Linked DNA regions of Homo sapiens. The protein of the gene in region 3 purifies or fractionates together with the protein of the main gene of each other region. This does not show direct contact. Each region holds a gene or a part of one and is shown on either strand. Other genes may lie near its edges.

Region 1 (3,500 bases), on a different chromosome or scaffold from region 3:
GGGAGAGTTGCTTGAGACCAGACGATCAAGGGTGCTGTGAGCTGTGATCACGCCTCTGCACTCCAGCGTGGGGTGACAGAGTGGGACTCCATCTCTTAAAAAATATATATATATATATATGTATATATATACACACACACACTCTCACACACACACACACACACACACACTGTGTGTGTGAGGGCACATGAGCTAGAGGGATATGCAGGCAGGAAAGGCCTCCTGGAGGAGCTGATCCTTGAACCATGACAATATTTACCAAGAGACAAAGTGGTTTATGGAAATGCGGGTGAAAGACAGGGCAAGAGAGAGTGTGAGAGATGAGCTCTGATGTTTATATATGTTATTCTGAAAGGCGATAGGAATTCCTGACAGTTTTAAGTAGGAAAGTAGTATGGTCAGATTGACACTTTATTTTTTAAAACAGGTAGTATATTTACGTGGTTTAAAAATTTAAAAACATATAGAAGAGTATATAGTGAACAATTTCTCATTTACCCAGTAACTTTCCCCTCAGACAACCACTGCATGCATTTCTTATATATTTCCTCAGAGCTATGTTCTGCAAATATAAGTAAATACAAAAATAGTGTACCTGTATCCCTCAACCTACTTTCACGCTAATGACAGCATACCATACTTAGCATTTGTGCACCTTGCTTTGTTCTTGTAGCTCATCATGGTGAGATCTTTCCATATCAATATATCAAAAGCATCCTTTTTTATCCCCCTCTTCTTTTTTCTTTCCTATGGCTGCTTAATTTTCCATTTTATTGAAGGCCCACAATTTACTTAAAATGAGCCTGCTATTGATGGACATTTAGATTGTTTCCAGCCCTTTTCAGTTGGAAAATTGCATTGGGTACAGTAGACTAACATTTTCAGAAGGATTAGTAGGGGCTTAAATATTTGTTGAATGAATTATTGAATGGAAGATAGATGACTTGGAAGCAGGTGGGGATGTGAAAGGAGACTGAAGACAGGAACACCAATTACAAGGGTTCTGCAGTTATCTGGGGGTAGAAAAGAGGGAGAGATTAGAGAGATACATATTTAGGAAATCTAGTGAGACTAGGTGGCCTGTGTAATATTGGGAGTAGGGGATGTGAGTAGTCAAGGTTGATTTCTTGGGATAGTAGTAATACATTAGACAAATAAAAACACATTTATTACTAATTTATCATAAATGAAAACAGCACCATTTTTATTGGGAAGTACACGCATAGAATCAAAGCAGCCACCAGCAAGGAAAGCCAGTAGAAATGGAAAGTAGAATCAATGACTGTGGATTCCTAATTTCTGTTTCTTCTGATGTTATTTTTCTAATGCTTCTGCCCGTATTGCTAAGTGACTCTCTTTTTTTCCAACTAGTCCATCTCTCCTTGACTTCTTTTTTTTCCCCTTTCTAATTTGAGCCCTTGTTTTTTAAAATTTTATTTTTAATTGACAAATAATTTTATAATAATTTGTGGGGTACAACGTGATGTTTTGATATATGTTTACATTGTGGAATGAGTAAATCAAGCTAATTAACAAATCCATCAGCTCACATACTTATATTTTTTGTGTGGTGGAAACATTTAAAATCTATTTTTTAATAATTGCGAAATATATAATGCATTACTTATTATAGTCACCACTCTGTGCAATACATCACTAAAGCTAATTTCTTCTATCTAACTGAAATTTTGTACCGTCTGATCAACATCTTTCCTTTCCCCATCTTCCCCTCTCCCCCAGCCTCTGATAACCACCATTCTACTTCAATTAGTTCAACTTTTTTAGATTTCACATATGAGTGAGATCATCAAGGCATTTGTCATTTTGTGCTTGGCTCATTTCACATAGCATACTGTCCACTAGGTTCATCCATGCTGTCATAAATGACAGAGTTTTCTTCTTTTTTTTTCTCTTGAGACGGAATCTAGCTCTGTTGCCCAGGCTGGAGTGCAGTGGCTCCATCTCGGCTCGCTGCAAGCTCCGCCTCCCAGGTTCACGCCATTCTCCTGCCTCAGCCTCCGGAGTAGCTGGGACTACAGGCGCCCGCCACCAACGCCTGGCTAAGTTTTTGTATTTTTAGTGGAGACGGGATTTCACCGTGTTAGCCAGGATGGTCTTGATCTCCTGACCTCATGATCCCCTTGCCTCGGCCTCCCAAAGTGCTGGGATTACAGGCGTGAGCCTCCGCACCTGGCCGAGTTTTCTTTTTAAGGCTAAAAAGTATTCTGACATTTATATATATATGTATATATAAACATTTTCTTTATCCATTTATATGATAAGGGACATCTAGGTTGCTTCTGTATCTTAGCTATTGTGAATAATGCTGCCATGAATTTGGGAGTGTAGATATTTTTTCAGCATACTGGTTTTATTTCCTTTGGCCATATACCCAGAAGTGGGATAGCTGGATCATATGGTAATTCTGTTTGCAGATTTCTGAGGAACCTCCATATTGTTTTCCATAATCACTGTATTAATTTACATTCTCACCAACTGCAGTAGAGTTCCTTTTTCTCTACATCTTCTCCAACACTTGTTATCTTTCATCTTTTTGATGATAGCTATTCTAACAGGTGTGAGGAGATAGCCCATTGTGGTTTTAATTTGCATTTTCCTGGTAATTAGTTGTGAAGAGCATTTTTTCTTATATCTGTTGGCCATTTGTATGTCTTTTGAGCAATGTCTATTCGGGTCCTTTGCCCATTTTTAAATTGAGTTCTTTGTTTTCTTGCTATTGATTTGAATTCCTTATATATTTTGAATATTAACTCCATATAAGATGCATGGTTTGCAAAGATTTTCACTCATTCTGGGATATCTCTTCACTCTGTTGTTTCCTTTGCCATACAGAAGCCTTTTGGTTTGATACAATCCTATTTGTTTATTTTTGCTTTTGTTGCCTGTGCTTTTGGGGTCAAGTCCAAGAAATCTTTGCCAGGCCTGTGTCATGGAGCTTCTTTTCCCAATGTTTTCTTCTAGTAGTTTTACAGTTTCAGACTGTACATTTAAGTCTTTAATACAGTTTGAGTTGATTTTTGTATATGCTGTGAGATAAGGGTCTAATTTCATTCTTCTACATGTGGATATTCAGTTTTCCTAATACCGTTTATTGAAAGATTGTCCTTTCTCCATTGTGTGTTCTTGGTGCCTTTGTTGAAAATCAGATGATGGTAAATGCATGAGTTTATTTCTGGACTCTCTATCCTGTTCCATTGGTTTTTGTGTTAGCTTTTATGCCAGTACCATGCCATTTGATTAGGTTTGTAGTATATTTTGAAGTCAGATAGTGTGGTACTCCACCTTTGTTCTTTTTGCTCAAAATTGCTTTCGCTCTTTGGGGTCTTTTGTTGTGCTGTACAAATTTTAGGATTTTTTTTTCTATTTCCTTGAAAAATGACATTAGAATTTTGATAGGAATTACATTTGATAGGAATTACATTTGATAGAAATTACATTGAATCCTGGCCTGGGATTAATTTCTTAATATCTTTTTCAGA
Region 2 (3,500 bases), on a different chromosome or scaffold from region 3:
AGCCTCTCGAGTAGCTGGGATTACAGGTGCCCACCACCACGCCCAGCTAATTTTTTGTTGTTGTTGTTTGTATTTTTAGTAGAGATAGGGTTTCACCATGTTGGCCAGACTGGTCTTGAACTCCTGACCTCAGGTGATCCGCCCACCTTGGCCTCCCAAAGTGCTGGGATTACATGTGTGAGCCACCGCGCCTGGCCATGTTCTCCATTAAGTTAGAATCTCCTGTGACATCTTTTTTTTTTTTTTTTTTGTTTGAGGGAAGGTCTTGCTCTGTCGCCCAGGCTGGAATGTAGTGGTGCAGTCACTGCTCACTGTAACCTCGAACTCCTGGGCTCACGGGATCCTCCCGCCACAGCCTCGCTAGTAGCTGGGACTGCAGGCACACACCTGTAGTCCCAGCTATTTGGGAGGCTGAAGTGGGAGAATCGCTTGAACCCAGGAGGCAGAGGTTGCAGTGAGCCGAGATCAGGCCACTGCACTCCAGCCTGGGCAAGAGAACGAGACCCTGTTCCAAAAAGAAAAAAAAAGATAATACAGTGTTTCCATTGTTAATCAATGCACGGTCTAGAATCTTTGATGGAATTATGGACATTGCAAACACTTTCCAGAGATCTATACTCACCACGTTCAAAAAGCAGGCTTCTGTTCTAAGCAGGTGGGGGTAGGAAATCTCTCTTTCTTTTAATATAGTAAATGTTTGATCAGCGATCTTATATTTAATATTTGAGGTACTTGAATTATTATTATTTTTTAATCCTCTGAATGTATGTAAACAGTTAAATCTTAATGTAAAGCCCAATGTAACACTGTGAGAGTAAGTGGAGACTGAGCTGTGTAGCTCCGTCTCTTCTGTTGAAACTCTTCAGGATGGATTTAGTGCGTGTTAGGGCTCAGGGAGGACAGGTTGAGGGTTAAGCATCCCAAGCATATGTTTATTTCTGGCTGAGTATTTACAGGGCTTAAAGCCTATGCATTTTGTCTTTCCGCCTAGGACAACAAAAGTAAAACCAGCATGGGTTTTGGCTCTCACTGTTGTTTTTGCCCTCTGTAAGGTTATATAAAAAACACAGAGAAATTAAACTACGGGAAAGAACATCAATATAAGCTGACCGTCACTGCCTATGACTGTGGGAAGAAAAGAGCCACAGAAGATGTTTTGGTGAAGATCAGCATTAAGCCCACCTGCACCCCTGGGTGGCAAGGTGAGCTTCATTCTCTCCCCTGCGCTCACATCTGCTCTTAAAACTGATGTATGCGGCAGCAACCTAGAGTGTGTGTTTTCCTTCTCTCTTCCCCTGCTGACTTGTGGACCAACACAGGATGGAACAACAGGATTGAGTATGAGCCGGGCACCGGCGCGTTGGCCGTCTTTCCAAATATCCACCTGGAGACATGTGACGAGCCAGTCGCCTCAGTACAGGCCACAGTGGAGCTAGAAACCAGCCACATAGGGAAAGGCTGCGACCGAGACACCTACTCAGAGAAGTCCCTCCACCGGCTCTGTGGTAAGGAGACCAGGCGTTCTTGCATCCGGCTGGCTTTGGTGAAGGTGGGAGGGACCTTTACAACTGGAAATACTTGTGTGTGTTGTGTTCATAATTATAAACTGTGACAGAGAATCTGCATTTCTGAAGTGAACTTTGCTGCCTTGCTGGCTAGTTTTCATACTGGATGGGCTTCGGGGGTGGGGCAGGGGGTGGACATCAACTCCTAAACGTCTATTCAACATGTTGTGTATATGTGCATTTTAAGAACCACTGGTGGCCAGATGTGGTGGCTTATACCTGTAATTCCAGCACTTTAGGAGGCCGAGGTGGGAAGATCACTTGAGCCCAGGAGTTTGAGACCAGCCTGGGCAACACAGCGATACCCCATCTCTACAAAAAATTGAAAAATTAACTGGGGATGGTGGCATGGACCTGTAGTTCCAGTTACTTGGGAGGCTGAGCGGGAGGATCACCTGAGCCCGGGAGGTTGAGGCTGCAGTGAGCCGTGATGGCACCATTGCACTCCACCCTGGGCAATAGAGTGAGACCCTGTTTTAAAAAAAGAACCACTGATTTGAAGGAAGTATTTCTCCAGCATACTCTGAGAATCATCCAAAAAGGGCTTCTATAGGAGTACATGGAGTGAGTTTTACATGAAATGAGATGTTTACTTACGAATTGAAGACAAAGGCCAGGGCATGGGGGCTCATGCCTATAATCTTACCACTTTGGGAGGCCGAGGTGGGCAGATCACCTGAGGTCAGGAGTTCGAGACCAGCCTGACCAACATGGAGAAAACCCTGTCTCTACAAAAAAAACAAAAACTAGCCGGGCATGGCGGTGCACGCCTGTAGTCCCAACTACTTGGGGGGCTGAGGGAGGAGGATCGCTTGAGCCCAGGAGGTGGACGTTGCAGTGAGCCAAGATCACGCCGCTGCATTCCAGCCTGGATGACAGAGTGAGAACCTGTCTCAAAAAGAACTGAAGGAAAAATATAGGTAATACAATAGCTTTTGACAAACATGAAGTAGAAAATCAGAACTAAAGATAGCCACATCTAACTTAGAATCTCAATAGATTTTCTATATCACAATATTGTGTGGAGAAATTGAGAGACAGAATTACTGGGAAACCCACCAGAAGGCTAGGTCTCTCTTTACTGTCAGCTGCGGATATTTTTCTGGTTTATCTAAATGAAGAAGAGGTGAGGTATGGATGGCTGTCATGGAAGATGTTGAGGGAAGAACATTTAGTTGACTGGTGATAAAATCCCACTAAATGAAGCAGCGTCTTCATAAATTGGAAGGGTCTTTTGTGTTTCAAAAAGCTTTTGTGAAACAGCTTTTCAGGGAGCATTTTCTTAAACTGATGAGTCTTTTCACTAGCCTGATAACAACCATGAGATTTAGGTTACTGGTTTTCTTTTTTTTTTTTTTAGACAGAGTCTCACTCTGTCACCCAGGCTGGAGTGCAGTGGCGCCATCTCGGCTCACTGCAAGCTCCGCCTCCTGGGTTCACACCATTCTCCCGCCTCAGCCTCCCGAGTAGCTGGGACTACAGGCACCTGCCACCATGCCCGGCTAATTTTTTTGTATTTTTAGTAGAAACGGGGTTTCACCGTGTTAGCCAGGATGGTCTCGATCTCCTGACCTCGTGATCCGCCCACCTCGGCCTCCCAAAGTGCTGATTGCAGGCATGAGCCACCGCGCCCGGCCACTGGTTTATAATTGAAAATTATCCAGATCACTTGAGGTCAGGGGTCTAAGACCAGCCTGATCAACATGATGAAACCCCCGCTCTACTAAAAATAAAAAATTAGCCAGGCGTGGTGCGAGGTGCCTATACTCCCAGCTACTTGGGAGGCTGAGGCAGGAGAATTGCTTGAACCCAGGAGGCTGCAGTGAGCCAAGAGTGTGCCACTACTCTCCAGCCTAGGTGACAAAGCTAGACTTTGTCTTAGAAAAAAAACAATAAATAAGAAGAAAATTATCATGTGGTAAATAAACCAAAGTA
Region 3 (3,500 bases):
CGCCTGTAACCCCAGCACTTTGGGAGGCCGAGGTGGGTGGATCACCTGAGGTCAGGAGTTCAAGACCAGCCTGGCCAACATGATGAAACCCCATGTCTACTAAAAGTACAAAAATTAGCCGGGCATGGTGGTGGGTGCCTGTAATCCCAGCTACTCAGGAGGCTGAAGCAGGAGAATCTCTTGAACCCAGGATGCGGAGGTTGCAGTGGGCTGAGATTGCGCCACTGCACTCCAGGCTGGGTGACAAGAGTGAGACTCTGTCTCAAAAATAAAAAATAAAAAATAAAAAACAAACAAACAAAAAACACCTCATATATGACAGCTACTCTATGCTATCTCTGAACCACATAGCAACCCTGAACATTCTACGGAGGGGGAAACTAGGACTCAGTGATTAAGTAAAGGGCCCAATATCCTGGGCCCTATAAGTAGCAGAGCTGGGACTCAAACCCATGCTGTCAGATTCCAGATCCCATGCACCTCACTGCTGTGCCATGCTGCCTCTCTTCTGTGGACAGAGATAAAGTAGCCAGGCATGGTAGTGCATGCCTGTAATCCTAGCTACTCGGGATGCTGAGGTGGGAGAATCACCTGAGCCCAGGAGGTGGAGGTTGCAGAGAGCCGAGACTGGGCCACTGCACTCCAGCCTGGGCAACAGAGTGAGACCCTGTCTTAAAAAAAAAAAAAAAAAAAAAAGTAGCCGTTGAACTACAGCAGGCCCTGCCCTGCCGGGCCAGAATGCACAGCCCTGGAAGTTTTACATGTGTGCATGTGTGTGTGCTCCATTTGCTGGACAAAGCAACTTTGGAGGAGTCTATGACTGAATGGAAGAAGCGGCGGAGGTTCTCTATCTCCTCTTTATTTAAGGAGGCAGTTCTCCCTGTCATTCATCCCTAGTTAAAAAAGTTAAATGTGCCACTGTACCCCTGAATCTGTGGGCCACAGATATGTGTCAGGGACAGTCAGAGCAGGGCAGGCAGGCTCTGGCTGGGTAGGTGAAGGCCCAGCCTTGCCTGCCAGCCAGCCTGTGAAACCCCATCAGCTGCCTGCATTCCTCCAGCACAGCCTGGTTTCCATGGCACTGACCGTCTGGTGGGGACCTTTGTTCACACCAAGTAAAGAGCCTCTCTCTTGTATTGATTGCAAAGCAGAATGTTGCTCTCTTTCTCTTTCCTCCAGGGGACATGGTGAGAGGCAGGGAGAGGCCGCTGTGTCAGTACTGCGGTCCTTGCGGCCTCTGAAATGGGTTGTCGTGGGCTGTTCTGGGAGCACACTGCTTTTGTGCCATCTTTCTTTTGGGTCCTGGGCTAGGGATAAACTCTCAAGCAGCCTGGGCTCCCTTTCTGTCTTGGTTGCACATAAAGTTATCTAAATTTGGCTGGGTGCAGTGGCTTATGCCTGTAATCCCAGCTACTCAGGAGGCTGAGGCAGGAGAATCGCTTGAACCCAGGAGGCGGAGGCTGCAGTGAGCCGAGATCGTGCCACTGCACTCCAGCCTGGGTGACAGAGCAAGATTCCAACTCAAAAAAAAAAAAAGAAAAAAAAGTTATCTAAATTTTTGGAAACTATTTAGCGTTTCAGCCTCTACCAGTTCTCATATGAGTAATGAGTTCTGCAAGTTGACCGTCCACTCTAGACGGTAGCTCTGCCTCTTGTTTATCCTGAAACTACCATCTCAAGTCTCCTGATAGGCTCCCTGGTTCTAATGTGCTGTGGTCTGGTGAACACGGTCGTTAACCATGTCCTCCTTTCAGGACTCTTGTTGGTCACATCTCCTCCCAGCCTTGGTGTTTCGAGGCCAGGTTTTCTCAGCCTAGGCAATATTGACATTTGGGGCCAGGTAAGGTTTTGGTGTGGGGTGTGTGTGTGTTGGGATTGACTTGTGCACTGTAGAATGTTTAGCTGTATTCCTGGCCTGGCCCTGCTAGATGCTAGCAACTCTCTCCATCAGAATGGGGGCAATAAAAAGGTCTCCAGGAATTTCCAGATGTCCCCTGGGGGGCAAAGCCACTTGTAGTGGTGAACCACTGTTCCAGCGGCCCTTCCTTCCTGGCACATTTCATCCCTTAACTTTCTCCAGGTCCTTCCTGTGTGTCTGTGGGGCAAAGAGCTGTTCTGGTTGGGATAAATCTGGTTCCCATAATCACTTGGGCTTGGTAATAGTAGCTAATACTGACAGGCACTCAGTCTCTTAAGATCTCACGTGGACTTTGAATTAAGGTATAAATTCAGGTTCCATTTTATAAATGATAATGAAACACAGGGAAGTTTTTCAATATTTGGCCCACAGAATACCTACTTTTAGGATCATCCGGGGAATAAATATCTATTTCTATGTGCCATAATTCATATCTACCCACTAGGAGTTCAGGCACTTGGGAATCTGCATTTTATACTTTGCAAGTTCTCTTTTGGAATGGTTTTACATTAATGCAGTTTTCAAATCAAAAGATGGTGAAAGTCTCTCTTACTGCTCTGCTACCTGTCCGTTTCCCTTACCCACTCTCTCCCCCAACGCACACGCATACAGGTAACTAGTTGCTTGTGTGTCCTTCCAGATTTTTTTGTAGCTGTATGGTGGAATTTAAATTTAACAAGCTCCCAATTTCAAATATGAGAACCAGTGCTCTCAACAGTGCTGCTTGCCTGCTCAACACAAAATGTTTGGAGGCGGAAAGGTTTTCTCACGGTGGCTGCAAAATAGAGGAATTCTGGAGGCCTGATGTATGGATTCTCAGTGTATTGGGTGTCCTCTTCTCTCTCACCATTCCACCCCTGGGCCTGATTAAAGGAAGAAGAATAAATTCAGATACAAATAGCTCCGTTTGGGGAGACTGGATTCTCCTTCCAGAAGGATGTAGGCAGCTTAGTTATTCTGTAAAAATTCTGCTACAATTAAGGACATGAAAGATGCTCAGTGGCAGAATGAATGGGACAAATGGCTTAGTTTCAGGCAGTCTGAGTTCTTTCTAGAACTGCTTCAGTTTTAACAGGAGCAGTTCCTTGGAGCTGTGTGGCAGCGAAACTTGTGGCTAGTTGACGGGGTTTGGCTGAGGTGACGGGATACATGAAGGCTTCAGAAGAAAGTATAAATTCCATAACAGTAGGATTTAATTTCTGCAATGATGTCTTGGGGTCAACTGCATATGGAAATGGGTTTCTTATTTTCTTCCATGCTTTCCATGTCTTGATTCTCCCAGCTGGTCTCAGAAGTCATCTTCATTCTGCACACTCAGACTTAACTTGTAATCAGGACTCACTGACCAGGTGCACCTGACACCACAGCTGTTTTGGGGCCTCCTTCTGCTGCAGGTTTGGATCCTGCCGGGCCCATGTTTGAAGGGGCCGACATCCACAAGAGGCTCTCTCCGGACGATGCAGATTTTGTGGATGTCCTCCACACCTACACGCGTTCCTTCGGCTTGAGCATTGGTATTCAGATGCCTGTGGGCCACATTGACATCTACCCCAATGGGGGTGACTTCCAGCCAGGCTGTGGA
Region 4 (3,500 bases), on a different chromosome or scaffold from region 3:
GTCATTATTATTTTATTGTTACAATTTATGTTTCCCATAAAACGTTTTTAAAAAGAAAAAAATATTGCCGGGTGCGATGGCTCACGCCTGTAGTCCCAGCACTTTGGGAGGCCAATGCAGGCAGATCGCTTGAGTCCAGGAGTTCAAGACCAGCCCAGGCAACATGGCAAAACCCTGTCTCTACTAAAAATACAAAAAATTAGCTGGGTGTCATGGCACAGGCCTATAGTCCCAGCTACTTGGGGGGCTGAGGTCAGAGGACCACTTGAGCCTGGGAGGCTGAGGCTGCAGTGAGCGAGCCCTCATCTTGCCACTGCACTCGAGCCTGGGAGACAGAGTCAGACCCTGTCTCAAAAAAAAAAAAAAAATATATATATATATACACACACACACACGTGCACACACACACACACACACACACACACATATGTATATATAAACACCAAGATAATCAGGATAGATGAAATTTTTAAAAATCATCTTGTCAACTATAACCCAACACTTAAGCTTGTCTTTTATTTCAACTTTATTCCTACAAAATACTATTACAAGTCAATCTTATTTACTACATTTTTAATATTCCCCACTTAGGTATTTGAAATTTCAGTTGTTAGAACTGTTTCCTTACATGTATCCAACCTAATATTTTTAAATTTATGTTTGATGGCTACAAATTAACTATGGCTTGAGAAACTTTCAAGAAAAAAAAAACTTCACAAAATAAATTTAATCTGCAGTCAATATTTCCTCTGTACATTAATAAGCTCTAAAAGTGATTCAAAAAAATCATCACTTATAGGCAAAAACTCTTAAGCAACCATTGATTTCCACTATTTATGATGAAAAAAATCTGTAAAATTTCTAGTATCAGAAGCTCAAGTATCAAGCAGGTAATATCAGTAACAGTCAAATATAAGCACATGCTATCAACAACCACAAACTGTCCAACTAAAAAATGTAAACAGTTAAATGGGATCTTGAATGAGATCTTGGTAGCAGCTGTATCACTAGCATTTGCCATTCTGCCAGTTGTTTAGAGGCTATTCGAAATAGCAGGAATTTATCTGCTCAAACTAACGTCACTTAAATTTCATCTCCTTCATTCCTGCAATTGTGTTCCATATTTCAAATTCTCAAAGACCCATGATTCTTTCTGATGAGGAAAAATCAAATTTACATGCCTTTTGTAATTAAATTGCATTGAAAGCATCTCCAATTTTTGCGAGTCAGCTTCACTTGTTTTCATGCTATATCCTAAATTACACCACCAAAGAAACTTCTGTTTGTTCTTTTTATAGAACTGTCCTATGGGTTAAAAAGTCAAATTCAGGGCAACACAGGCATTTTGGCTAGATTCACCTCTCTCAATGAATACTACTGCATCATGCTTTCGAACAACACAATATTCTTGCATTCTCTAATTTATTACTGGCAGTAATACTGGCAAACCATTTAAGATCATTTATGGTTAAAATGAGAATGATCTTTTAGAAGACACATAATTTTGACAGAAAACCACAGGATTTGGGAGTCCAGTGAGAAGAAGCCTACATCAAGTTGACACTAAGAACAAAAGCAAGATGAAGGGACTCAACACCACAGACACTCAAGCCAATTACGGTCAAGCTATAAGCAAAAAAATTTACACACACAGCAAAATTAAGTATATACACATGGCTTGTGTTAAGCAAAAACACAAGCAGAACACTCATTTAACTAGGGATGAATGAATACACTTAGAAAAAAATACACTAGTGAAAGAAGGATTGGCATTAATCAGGCTAGTCACCTGTTTAAAGCACGTATTTAGCATCATCAACTGGAAGTAATTTTTACACAAATATGACAACTTGCAGAGAACAGGTAAGCTACTGATTTTCCCATTTTGAGTCTGTAAAATGCAAGAACGGAACTTACTTTCATTAGCTCTGCCCTCAATAACTAAAAATGTGAATTTGTTTTGAAATGCATAAAAAATAAGATGGATTGATGGAAAGATGGACAGATCTGTGATAAAGCAAGTACAGTAAAATGTTAATGTAAAAACCTTTAGGTGGGCATGTGGGTATCTAATGTAAAGTTCTTTCAACCTGGCTGTAGGTGAAAATGTTTACAATATGTTGGGTGAAAATTGTGGAGTTTGCCTTTTCTGATCAAACTCTCCTACAACAGAAACAATGCTACATTCCAAAACCACACTTAAAATGTAGCAGACATTCACATCATAGGAACTAATTTATGAACGTAATACTTCCTACAGCTATATCTTACCAAAAAGGGAGGGGTAGTAAGGAGAACCATGGAAAGACTAACCCTTTGAAAAAATAACTAATAAGAGTAATAGATAGAATATCTTATATTGGCTTCTTGAGGATCTAGGTTTGTTTGTAACTGGATTCAAAATCTGAGTAAATCATAGCACTAGATTAGTTTGGTTTCAAACAAATGGTAAAAAATATGAATGGCTAACAGAATGTTCATTTTTACCCAGATTAAATAGCTACAACTAAACTGTTTAGATAGAATGTGCTGTGTATGGGGGAAACTGCCATATGAACTTTAACCCTATTTTTAAATTTTAGCTTCATTTTAATATATGACTCAAGTACAGGTAAAAGCATTTTCTTCTAAATGAACAACAAATCAGTATGTGTAATATGTATGATACCAACAGGAATCTTAAAACAAACCATAAATACATCACAAAGATTTTAGTACCTACCATCTTAGCCTTCCTTAACTTACTGAAGAACCCGATACCTCCAGAGATAGATGTCGTTGAAGAATAAAAAAAGCCAGCGGTAATATCAAATTTCATCTGATAATCATATCTTCAAATAATTGCCCAGATATTTTAAAGTGAAGTGATTGTACTGTCACATCATAATCAACTTTTAACTAGTTTCACTACCATAGGGTAGCTGAAATAATATGAGATCTCCACCATTGTTTTTAAAAACTTGATTCCTTTCTATTACAAACTGAGTATATATTAATGAAATACAGGGCAAGAAAAATTCAAAAGCAACCCCTAAATCTGAAGAAACACTTAATGGGAGGAGGGGACAAGCATACTTACCATAGCAGTTACTTTTTTTGACCTCTTCTATTCAACAGTATAAATCAAGTATTGAAAAGAGACCTGTCTCTTCTATTTCTATCACATGTATGCTCATTTCATCTGAGGGGAATAATTTGTATTTCTGACAAAACAGAAGTTTATCTGTTGTTAAAAAAATTCAAATTTTCTGTGAAAGATGTATTACTATGACCCTTCCCTTTCCAAAGCTTAAAAATGCCTTAAAATACTCACCTGAAAGCTTTCTTTCCAGAAACATGTTCACTTAAGCAATGCTTTGAAATCATTGCTATTGATCATTTACATATTTTTAGTTTATACACATTATTGTAACTTTATAGACCTAATTTCTATTTCATTTTATCTTTGAAGCATAACCTGGCTTATGCAAGAACAAACTATACTATTTCTGTAAGGTCTT
Region 5 (3,500 bases), on a different chromosome or scaffold from region 3:
TCAAATACCACCTGAGGGCTGCATGATTTCTAGGTGGTGGGAACACAGTGTGGACCAGGACAGACAGTGCCCTGCTTTTATAGAGTAAGCAAGGGTGGGGAGTTTTATGCAGGGCGTGTGTGGCGCTGTAGGTGTGTTCCCCACAGACCCAGCCATGCTCAGGAGCCGTAACTGGCTTTTTTCTCTCTGCCTGCCCATGTCAAGGTCCGCCAGCTCCTGGAGGAAGGACGCCTGGAATTTGTCATCGGAGGCCAGGTCATGCATGACGAGGCTGTGACGCACCTTGATGACCAGATCCTGCAGCTCACAGGTTTGGCCACCCTACCCTGCACCCAGGGTCCCTCAGGACCTCCAGTGGGGCTGGGACATGGTATCAGAACCCCCAGGTTCTGAGCTCTGTCTGCCCCTCTTAGTGGGGTCGGGGACCTTAACCAGTGAAAGCAGTGATTTGCTAGTGCCATATTCATGCCTCACCAAGGAAGTTGAATGTAGGGGTTAAGAGCATGGATGCTAGAGTCAGATGGTCTCAATATATCCTGGCTCTGCCAATTCCCTCCTCTGTGACCCTGGAAAGGAATGTAACTTCAGTTTCCTCATAGATAAAATGAGTTTGATGGTAATACCTACCTCAAAGGGTTGTTGTGAGTATTAAATGGGATAATTCAAATAAAGCACTTTAGTAGGATGTGGGTTCCCTAGTAAATGCTCAGTAAGTGTTTGCTGCCTTCCATCACAATTACCACCTTCAGCACCATAATGACCATGACTACTACCATCACCACCACCACCACGATGACCATCACTACCACTACCATCACCACCACCACCACCATCACCATCACCACTACCACCATCACCACCATCACCACCACCATCACCATCACCACCACCACCACCATCACCATCACCAGCACCACCACCATCACCATCACCACTACCACCACCACCACCATCACCACCACCATCACCATCACCACCACCACCACCACCATCACCATCACCAGCACCACCACCATCACCATCACCACCACCACCACCACCATCACCACCACCACCCTTCACCACCATCACCACCACCACCATCACCACCACCATCACCATCACCACCACCATCACCACCACCACCACCATCACCACCACCACCACCACCACCATCACCATCACCACCACCATCACCATCACCACCACCACCACTACCCTTCACCATCACCACCACCACCATCACCATCACCACCACCATCACCACCACCCTTCACCATCACCACCACCCTTCACCACCACAATGACCATCACTACCACTACCATCACCACCACCATCATAACTACCATCACCACCACCCTTCACCACTGCTATGACCACCACTACCACTACCATTACTACCACTACCATCACCACCATCACCACTACCACCATCATCTTCACCACTACAATGACCATTACTACCACTACCATCACCACCACCCCCTAAACACTATCACCATGATCACCACCCATCACTGTCGCCACCACCATCACCACATCCATTACTACCATCCCCTCCACAATCATCATCACCACCACCATGACCATCTCCCTCACCATTGTGTCCACTGTCCTCAGCACCATCACCCACAGTGCCGTGGGGCACTCTACTCACCATTTACCAAATGCCTTTCACAGTGACACCCCAGCCAATCCTAATGGCGGGCTGATGGTGAGGCATGGTGATGCCCAGTTTCATTTTGCAGATGTAGAAACTGAGATCCAAAGAAATGCAGTAACTCTCTCCAGGGTAGATGGCCAGGACTTGAGTCCAGGCCTAGGGACTGAAGCTCCGAGTCCACAGTCACTCCACTACAGCATGGGCCCTGATTTCCCCATTTGTAAAACATCCAGGCAGAGAGCAATGTTGTCAAAGGATGTTTTTGGCACTCTCCCTTTTCTCATCTGTAATCTGGAGTGTTCCCCTGTCTCAGTTTCTTACTGCCTTACATCTGGACTTTGCTCAAACCCTAGACTTGCCCTTCCATGAGAAGGAGGCGTGATGGACACAGCCCTACAGACAGAGCTCCTCCTGTGGCCAGGAGCTCAGCCCCTGCTTGTCCCCCTGCATCCCCACAGGCCCAGAGGTAACAGGGGAGGACAGCAAGGCTCAGAGGGAGCACCTTGCCCTCAGCCGCCTGCTGTGGCTCCCTGACTCCAGAGCCCCTGCTCTTTCACTCCCCCATGTGAAGTGTGGGCAAGGGATCTATCCCAACAGACTTCCCCCACACCCCTTCACAAGCCCACTGCCAGGGAATGTGTGACACTGTAGGCGTGTCCCCCACCTGCCTCCTGCCCCGTGCCAGCGAGGAGGCTCTGGGGCTGTTTCTCACCTGTGCCATTTCACGCAGTGCTCCCCCTCATTCTCCACCCTCCTCCTCAAGATGCAGCTGAGAAGCCCCTCCCGCAGGAAATCTCTGAGTCTCTGCAGTTCTGTGTCACCTCCCCACTTAACCGCTGAACCTCAAGATGCCCCTGGCAGGGACCCCCATCTGACTCATCTCAGCACCCAGCATAGGGTCTGGCCCAGACCACTGCTTACTGGGCAAGGCTGGGCAAGGGGTGGGCGCTGAACTGCCCTGCCCTGAGGGTACCCACCACTGGGGTACCTCGCCTCTGGCCTCAGCCCACCGTGCCTAAGTGCTGATACCCCAGCGCTGACCCTGCAGGTCTGACCTGGCAACTGGAAGCCTCAGGGAAGCTGAGGCTGTGTCGCTCTGGGGCAGGAAGAGCCTCCAGAGACACAAGAGACAGCGGCTGTTGTGAGGCTCCATTTCCAAACCTGTCCAAGCTCATGGGGCCCTCAGGGTACAGACATGTGGGTTTCTTTCATGATAACCACCTTGTTCTAGGTACAAGATGTACACGTATTTTTTTTTCAGTCCTCAGGGCAATCTGGTAGATGGGTAATCTTACAAATGCTTATTTGTAGAGAAGTTTGAGGCTCAAATGCTATCCAAATGTGCCCACCACCAGCTAAGTGATGGGACCCAGATCCAACCCTAGCCCGGCCGAGTCAGGAAGGTTACTTGTGGCTGAGCCCCTCTCACTGGCGGCTGAGCCAAGCCCTTTCCCATCTGCTATCTCTTAGTTGCCTCAGAACAGCCTGGTAGCAAGTGGTACTGTTCACAGCCCCATTTGACAGATGAGGAAACTGAGGTACTGAGAGATGCGGGATTTATATATATGCAGTAGGTAACAGAACTGGCGCTCAAGCCCATGTGTGCCTGGCCTGGGCTCTTTCCTTAACTTGTAGTCCCTAGGGCGGGGGCAGAGTGTGTGTATCAGACCACCCATCTCAGATGTCCCAGGCATTCTGGCTGTGAATTATGTCCACATTGGGCTGGTTTTCTCAGATATGTTGGGGTAAGAGGGGCTGGATCACCCCTCACTGCTTCCGGGCCCTTTATCCTCCATCTCACCTTGGTGGAGCCCCTGCCTCGAGGCAGGCCCTGGACAGCAAAGGAAGACAGGAGCA
Region 6 (2,289 bases), on a different chromosome or scaffold from region 3:
GTGGGGGCATCTTTCGGGACCGAACTCGCCGCAGCCTCCCTCTTTGTGCTCCTTTCCCCTGCTGCCCTTCCAGATGCGCTCTTTCCAGAAAGGCAGCACACGCATGTCTCTGCCGTGGCCCCAGATCCTCCCCGCGCCGCCGTTTTGAGCGTTCACACTCATTACCCAGGTCCGTCTGGGAGACCCGCCGGGCTCCCGCCCTCCCGGCCCGCAGCCTCCTGGCCAAAATCCTCCCGGGACACCCCACCTGGACTGCTGCGAACGGGCCTCCACCCGCCTCCCCGGACCCGCAGCGCCCCCCGCTCCCTCAGGGTTCTGGGGTGAAGGGGTCTGAATAGCACCAGGGGAGGCGGCAGGGCGGGCCTGTCCTACCTGCGCCCGAGCACTGCTGAGACGACATCCCTTCCAGCGCCGCCACGTAGTCCAGCCCCAGCCAGCCGCGGTAGGTGGTTTTCTCTCCGACAGGCACCGCCCGGACGGTGGCATCCTTGAAAAGCAGGTCTTGGCCATGATAGTTGGAGGAGTCGAACATTTTGAACCCGTTCTTATTGTGGTCGTCTCCAAACAGGTCCTGGAAGCACCGCAGGCAGACGACCTGCTCCTCACTGGGCTCAGGCAGGGTCACCCGCCCAGTGCCGCTAGCTGCAAATTGCTTTACATACAGTGACCCAAAGAGCAAGTCATTTCAGGGCCCCACCACTCTGATTGGAAGTCATAAGCTTGACAACTGATTGGCCTCTGTCACCCAAGCGGGTGTGGGGACACTAGGCCCGCAGGTGCCACTGGAAGAGGCGTTCAGAAGCACTGCGGTGCTCCAGCTCCTGGATGCAGGTCTGAGGCCTGAGATGTCCAGGAAGAAAGACCCAGAAATGAGGGATGGTGTGGGTGGGATTCCTGAGCGTTCTGCTAGGCCTGCTGAGCACTTCTTGGCCTTTTCCATAAGGCTTTCTCACTCTGTCTTACAGATATCTCCCCACAAACCTAAACAATTTCGAGAGGGACTTGTGTTCTGCAACCAGTCACAGAATATCAGGTGAGCTGGGCGTGTCTTCACTGACCCACCCGCCCAGGGATGCTGCACTCCTCTCCACCCTGCTCAGAATCACTAGAATGACCGTTCTGTGGCTACAGCCCTAAAAGAGCTACTAAAAAGACCAGAAGTAGTATGAGAACTTATGAATACGAATATAAATAAAGGACATCTGGAGAACATGCATGAATGTCTATGTAAAGTGTTAAGTACTGATCAAGGAGGAACGAAGGAGTCAGGTGGCTCTCAGTCTTTTTGGAGGGACTCGCAGATCCTCCTGAAGATCTGATGAAAGCTGTCAGCCTTCTCCCCAGAAAAATGCACATCCACCCAGGATTCTTCTCCCACATTACTTCAGAGGACTTAGCAACCCCCTAGGGAAGCCCAGGGACCCAGAGTAAAGCACTCCTGGGATAGAGGGGTTCTGTGGGGAAGATGACAGGAAGGAACATGCGTCAGTTCACAATGTCAAAGTTTAGGAACAGGCCTGGCGAGCCAGCCAGCTCTGCAGTTCTGTGGTGCTGGTGGGTGTGGAGAAGGCAATTTCAGCATAAGTCGGGGGAGGGGGAGTGGTTAGAAACCAGTGGCTCCATTGTGAGACAACCTGGGTTTAAATTCTAGGTATATTTTGAAAGCACAACCAATGGGATCTGCTGATAGATTGGCTGTAGAGCACGAGAGGAAGACCGGAGTCAAAAATGACTCCCGAGGAAATGGAAAAGCTAAAGTTGCTCTTAATTGAAGTGGGGAAGACTGAAGGAGGGACGGGGGTCCAACTTTGGACTTGATCCATTTGAGATGACTGTTAGAAACACAAGTCAAAATGTCAAGTATGTAGTTAAATATGCAAGTTTGGGACTGATGTCTGAAGATGTAAATTTAGAAGCCATCTGTATATAGATGGTATTTGATGACATGGGATTGGATGAGATCAAGGGTAAGCTGTAGACAGGGAAGAGGGCTGAGAACTGAATCCTAGGGCTAACAGGTCAGGGAGATGGGGAGGAAATCAGCAGAGAAGACTGAGGAGTGGCCAGAGAGTGAGAGGACAGCCAGGCAGGGCTGAGGACCTGGGCATCTGCAGGGGAAGGTGTTTCCAGGAGGAGGGAGAGCTGTGGCCAGTGCCACTGAGAGGTCAAGTAAAATGAAGACTGAGAAATGGCCACTGGGTTTAGCAACATGGGTCACTGTGACCTTGACAAGAACAGCTTCAGGGCCCTGGTGGGAGCCTGTCTGGGGTAGTCTCCATCCTTAAGAGG
Region 7 (3,500 bases), on a different chromosome or scaffold from region 3:
GGTGACCCAGGGAGCCAGGGTCTAACCCAGCCTCCTCATGGCTGGGCTTCGGTGGTTCTGGTTCTCCATGTTACTCGTGGACTCTCAGCTGCTCTCTGAAGAGTTCTTCTTGGCTCAGGCTTCATCCTGGGCTTATCACTTCCTATACACCTGCTGTCAGAAATCCCTGTGTAAATATTAGTAATTGGACATTTGGTGCTTGAGATAAATGAACTGCAAAATCAGGAAGCCAGGGTTTGTTTCCTAGCTCATTGCAAAACTGTAAGGGCTCAGAGCTGCCCTCTCTGAACTAGAGAGCAGTGTACTTCCTCATTATTTGACTCCAAGGTGTAAAAATAGGATGAGTGAAATGACTGTTGCTGGGATTCCTGGAAGAAACAAAGGCCCCAGAAAGAAATCTAGTAGAGGACAATCTCCCCTCTCTGAGCATCACCTGAGTACTCTGACAGCTGGTACCTTCATGCTGAAGCCCTCAAATCCTATGACAGAGAAGTAGGGGTATATAGGCTTCCCATTGAAGCCCTTAGTTTATGCATGACTTTATTCTGCATTTGACCAATGAAGATATGCAACACCTGATATGGCTTGGCTGTGTCCCCACCCAAATCTCATTGTGAATTGTAGCTGTCATAATTCCCATGTGTTGTAGGAAAGACCCGATGAAAGGTAATTGAATCATGGGGGTAGATCTTTCCCCTGAGAAGTAAATCTCGTGAGATATGGTTTTATAAATGGGAGTCCCCTGTACATGCTCTCTTGCCTGCCACCATGTAAGATGTTCCTTTGCTCTTCCTTTGTCTTCTGCCATGATTGTGAGGCCTCCCCAGCCATGTGGCATTGTGAGTCCATTAAACCTCCTCCCTTTACAAAGTACCCAGTCTCGGGTATGTCTTTATTAGCAGCATGAGAACAGACTAATACAACACCAGAGCCTTCTGCTTTTAGCATTTTCATTACTTAAGTTTATTTGCTTTTGAAATGGAGCGAAGAAGAAATTTCTCCACCTTGTTAATGAGACTCATAAGTTGGAATTCTCCTTTCTTGGCAGATCATGTGGGAAAAAGGAATCTCTTGGCACAGGACTCCTAGATGTTCTGCTGTTACGCTTGTTGCTTTGAAACAGGGAATGAACAGACCTTCCATAAAATAGCCAGTTAGAGGCAGAGAAACTGGTCAACCCGATTCCATCCAACGGGAGGAACTCCGAAGTGGCAAGACATTAACCTTAAATCACCCTGCCTTCTGACGGCCATAGATTCTTTTTCCTTAGCTAATAGGCTGTCTCCATGGAGGAAGAATTTCTAGGTGATTCCACACCAGCAGCTGCAGTTGCACAAGCATGACTGCTTCCTTCATTTTAAAGTTTGGGGAGCCTTAGGAGGTGTTTTAGTCCATTTTCTGTTGCTTATAACAGAATACCTGAAACTCGGTAGTTTATTAAACAAAAGGAATTTAGTTCTTACAGTTATGGAGACTGAGAAGTCCAAAGTCCAGGAGCTGTACCTGGTGAGGGCCTTCTTGCTGGTGGGGACTTGGCAGTATCCCAAGGTGATGCAGGACCATCGTGAGGGGGCTGAGCATGATAACATGCTAGCTCAAGTCTCTTTTCCTCTTGTAAAGCCACCAATTCCCTTCCCATGATAACCGATTCATCTATTAATTGGTGAATGGATTCATCAGTTTATGAGGGCAGAGCACTCATGATTCAACCACTTCTTAAAGGCCCCACCTCTCAAAACTGCCACATTGGGGATTAAATTTCAACATGAATTTTTTGGAGGGACACCTATTCAAACCACAGCAGGAGATATGATTTCCCATTCCCAGGGGCTGCCTGGCTTTAAAAGAGCAGCTTGTTACTGTCATCGTCCATTTCCCCCTGGAGAAAGGCTTTTGTGGTCGGTCTGCATGGCAGTCACACCCTGGGTGGTCCATGAGGCCTCAGATGAAGTGGCCCGAGGCCACTCTGCTCTAGGCCCACAGACAAGGCGGGAATAGCAGTTGCAGGCTAGAAAAGGAAGGGCCAACCAGACATTCACAGAGATGCAACCAGAGCAACACACAGCTGAGTCTCTTAAGTCTTCAGTCCTGTGTAAGTTGAAGCAAGACATCAGAAATCTCTCACCTGAGTAATTCCACACATGCACCCACTGCTGTCCAATGCAGTGCTTGCTCAGCAGGGAGCACCTCTTGGCCAAGCGTATTGGCAGCCCTTCTACCGTGACCAGCGTCAGGGACGTCTCTAGGCGCCTTTTCAGAATAGCTGGCAACATAGGGAGACCCAGTCTCTACCAAAAAAAAAAAATTAGCCAGGCATGGTATAGTCCCAGCTACTCAGGAGGCTGAGGCAGGAAGATTGCTTGAGCCCAGGAGGTCAAGGCTATAGTGCATTCCAGCCTGGGTGACAGAGTGAGACCCTGTCTCAAAAACAAAGAAAGAATAGCCACTTGGTTGATGATGATAAAGGATGCTGGGGACTGTGTAGTTCAGACTTCTGTCCAGAGTTTTAACAAATCTTTTGCACTTTCTGTGGCAGAAATACTATTACCAGGCAAGTAGTGTGTGTGGCAGATGAGAACAAGAACTAACTCAGCAGATGCTGAGGTTGTGGTTAGGAACACAGTTAGTAGGTTCTTCTTGTCCAGGGCTTTTGATCCCTTCACTTGGGATACCTTAAGTATTATATTTAATTATAGTCTTCTAAGCAAAGAGTGATGTTTTCTTTTTAGTTTTTTCATTCCTACGATCCACGTCAGACAAGCAGACACAGCTGGCCCTCTGGATGTCCTGTGGCAACAGACATATCCTCCTTGATGTGTTGCCAACAAAGTGCTGAGGGTATCTTCTGCAAAAATGATGCCACTTGCCTATAAAACATACACTTACGACAAGATAACTTATGGTGATGACTTGTGAACAACTTAATTTGCAGTTTCTTTATAATATCTTTCTGGAACTTGGATCCATGAACTTCTTTTGCCCCCAGGCTTGTCCTGATATACCACTGGGGTACCAAGGTAAACACAGTATAGCTCTTCAGAGTGCCTGCATGACTCGAAGATGTAGTGAGAAAGATACTTTTCTAAATATCTTTCTAAAACAATTACAAATATAAAATTGAGTAAAGCACATTTCTTTTTTTTTTTTTTTTTTTTTTTTTGAGACAGAGTCTTACTCTGTCACCCAGGCTGGAGTGCAGTGGTGCAATCTCAGCTCACGGCAACCTCCACCTTCCAGGTTCAAGAGATTCTCCTGCCTCAGCCTCCCGAGTAGCTGGGATTACAGGCATGCACCACTATGCCCACGGAAAAGCATATTTCTTTCTTTTTTTTTTTTTTTTTTGAGACAGAGTCTTGCTCTGTTGCCCAGGCTGGGAGTGCAGTGGCGCGATCTCGGCTCACTGCAAGCTCCGCCTCCCAAGTTCACGCCATTCTCCTGCCTCAGCCTCCTGAGTAGCTGGGACCACAGGCGCCCGCCACCATACCCAGCTAATGTTTTCT

What was found.
Region 1: the proteins of LIPG (region 3) and SUMF1 purify together in Homo sapiens (affinity purification with mass spectrometry; one large-scale study listed by BioGRID and IntAct). This does not show direct contact.
Region 2: the proteins of LIPG (region 3) and CLSTN1 purify together in Homo sapiens (affinity purification with mass spectrometry; one large-scale study listed by BioGRID and IntAct). This does not show direct contact.
Region 4: the proteins of LIPG (region 3) and DNAJC13 purify together in Homo sapiens (affinity purification with mass spectrometry; 2 studies listed by BioGRID and IntAct, with this or other methods). This does not show direct contact.
Region 5: the proteins of LIPG (region 3) and MAN2B2 purify together in Homo sapiens (affinity purification with mass spectrometry; one large-scale study listed by BioGRID and IntAct). This does not show direct contact.
Region 6: the proteins of LIPG (region 3) and MELTF purify together in Homo sapiens (affinity purification with mass spectrometry; one large-scale study listed by BioGRID and IntAct). This does not show direct contact.
Region 7: the proteins of LIPG (region 3) and LOXL2 purify together in Homo sapiens (affinity purification with mass spectrometry; one large-scale study listed by BioGRID and IntAct). This does not show direct contact.

What each region holds. Positions count from the first base shown.
Region 1 is NC_000003.12:4,457,270-4,460,769, reverse strand, and holds part of SUMF1 (formylglycine-generating enzyme isoform 1 precursor), read left to right. Parts: intron 1-3,500.
Region 2 is NC_000001.11:9,747,466-9,750,965, reverse strand, and holds part of CLSTN1 (calsyntenin-1 isoform 1 precursor), read left to right. Parts: intron 1-1,052; coding exon 1,053-1,202; intron 1,203-1,319; coding exon 1,320-1,505; intron 1,506-3,500. UniProt on the Homo sapiens protein: Postsynaptic adhesion molecule that binds to presynaptic neurexins to mediate both excitatory and inhibitory synapse formation.
Region 3 is NC_000018.10:49,572,057-49,575,556, forward strand, and holds part of LIPG (endothelial lipase isoform 1 precursor), read left to right. Parts: intron 1-3,200; coding exon of another isoform or gene 3,201-3,277; exon of another isoform or gene 3,278-3,306; intron 3,307-3,312; coding exon 3,313-3,500. UniProt on the Homo sapiens protein: Exerts both phospholipase and triglyceride lipase activities. More active as a phospholipase than a triglyceride lipase.
Region 4 is NC_000003.12:132,424,002-132,427,501, reverse strand, and holds part of DNAJC13 (dnaJ homolog subfamily C member 13), read right to left. Parts: intron 1-3,500.
Region 5 is NC_000004.12:6,578,189-6,581,688, forward strand, and holds part of MAN2B2 (epididymis-specific alpha-mannosidase isoform 1 precursor), read left to right. Parts: intron 1-204; coding exon 205-310; intron 311-3,500.
Region 6 is NC_000003.12:197,003,529-197,005,817, forward strand, and holds part of MELTF (melanotransferrin isoform 1 preproprotein), read right to left. Parts: intron 1,217-2,289; exon of another isoform or gene 966-1,216; intron 832-965; exon of another isoform or gene 653-831; coding exon of another isoform or gene 572-652; coding exon 373-571; exon of another isoform or gene 74-372; intron 1-73. UniProt on the Homo sapiens protein: Involved in iron cellular uptake. Seems to be internalized and then recycled back to the cell membrane. Binds a single atom of iron per subunit. Could also bind zinc.
Region 7 is NC_000008.11:23,397,621-23,401,120, reverse strand, and holds part of LOXL2 (lysyl oxidase homolog 2 precursor), read left to right. Parts: intron 1-3,500. UniProt on the Homo sapiens protein: Mediates the post-translational oxidative deamination of lysine residues on target proteins leading to the formation of deaminated lysine (allysine).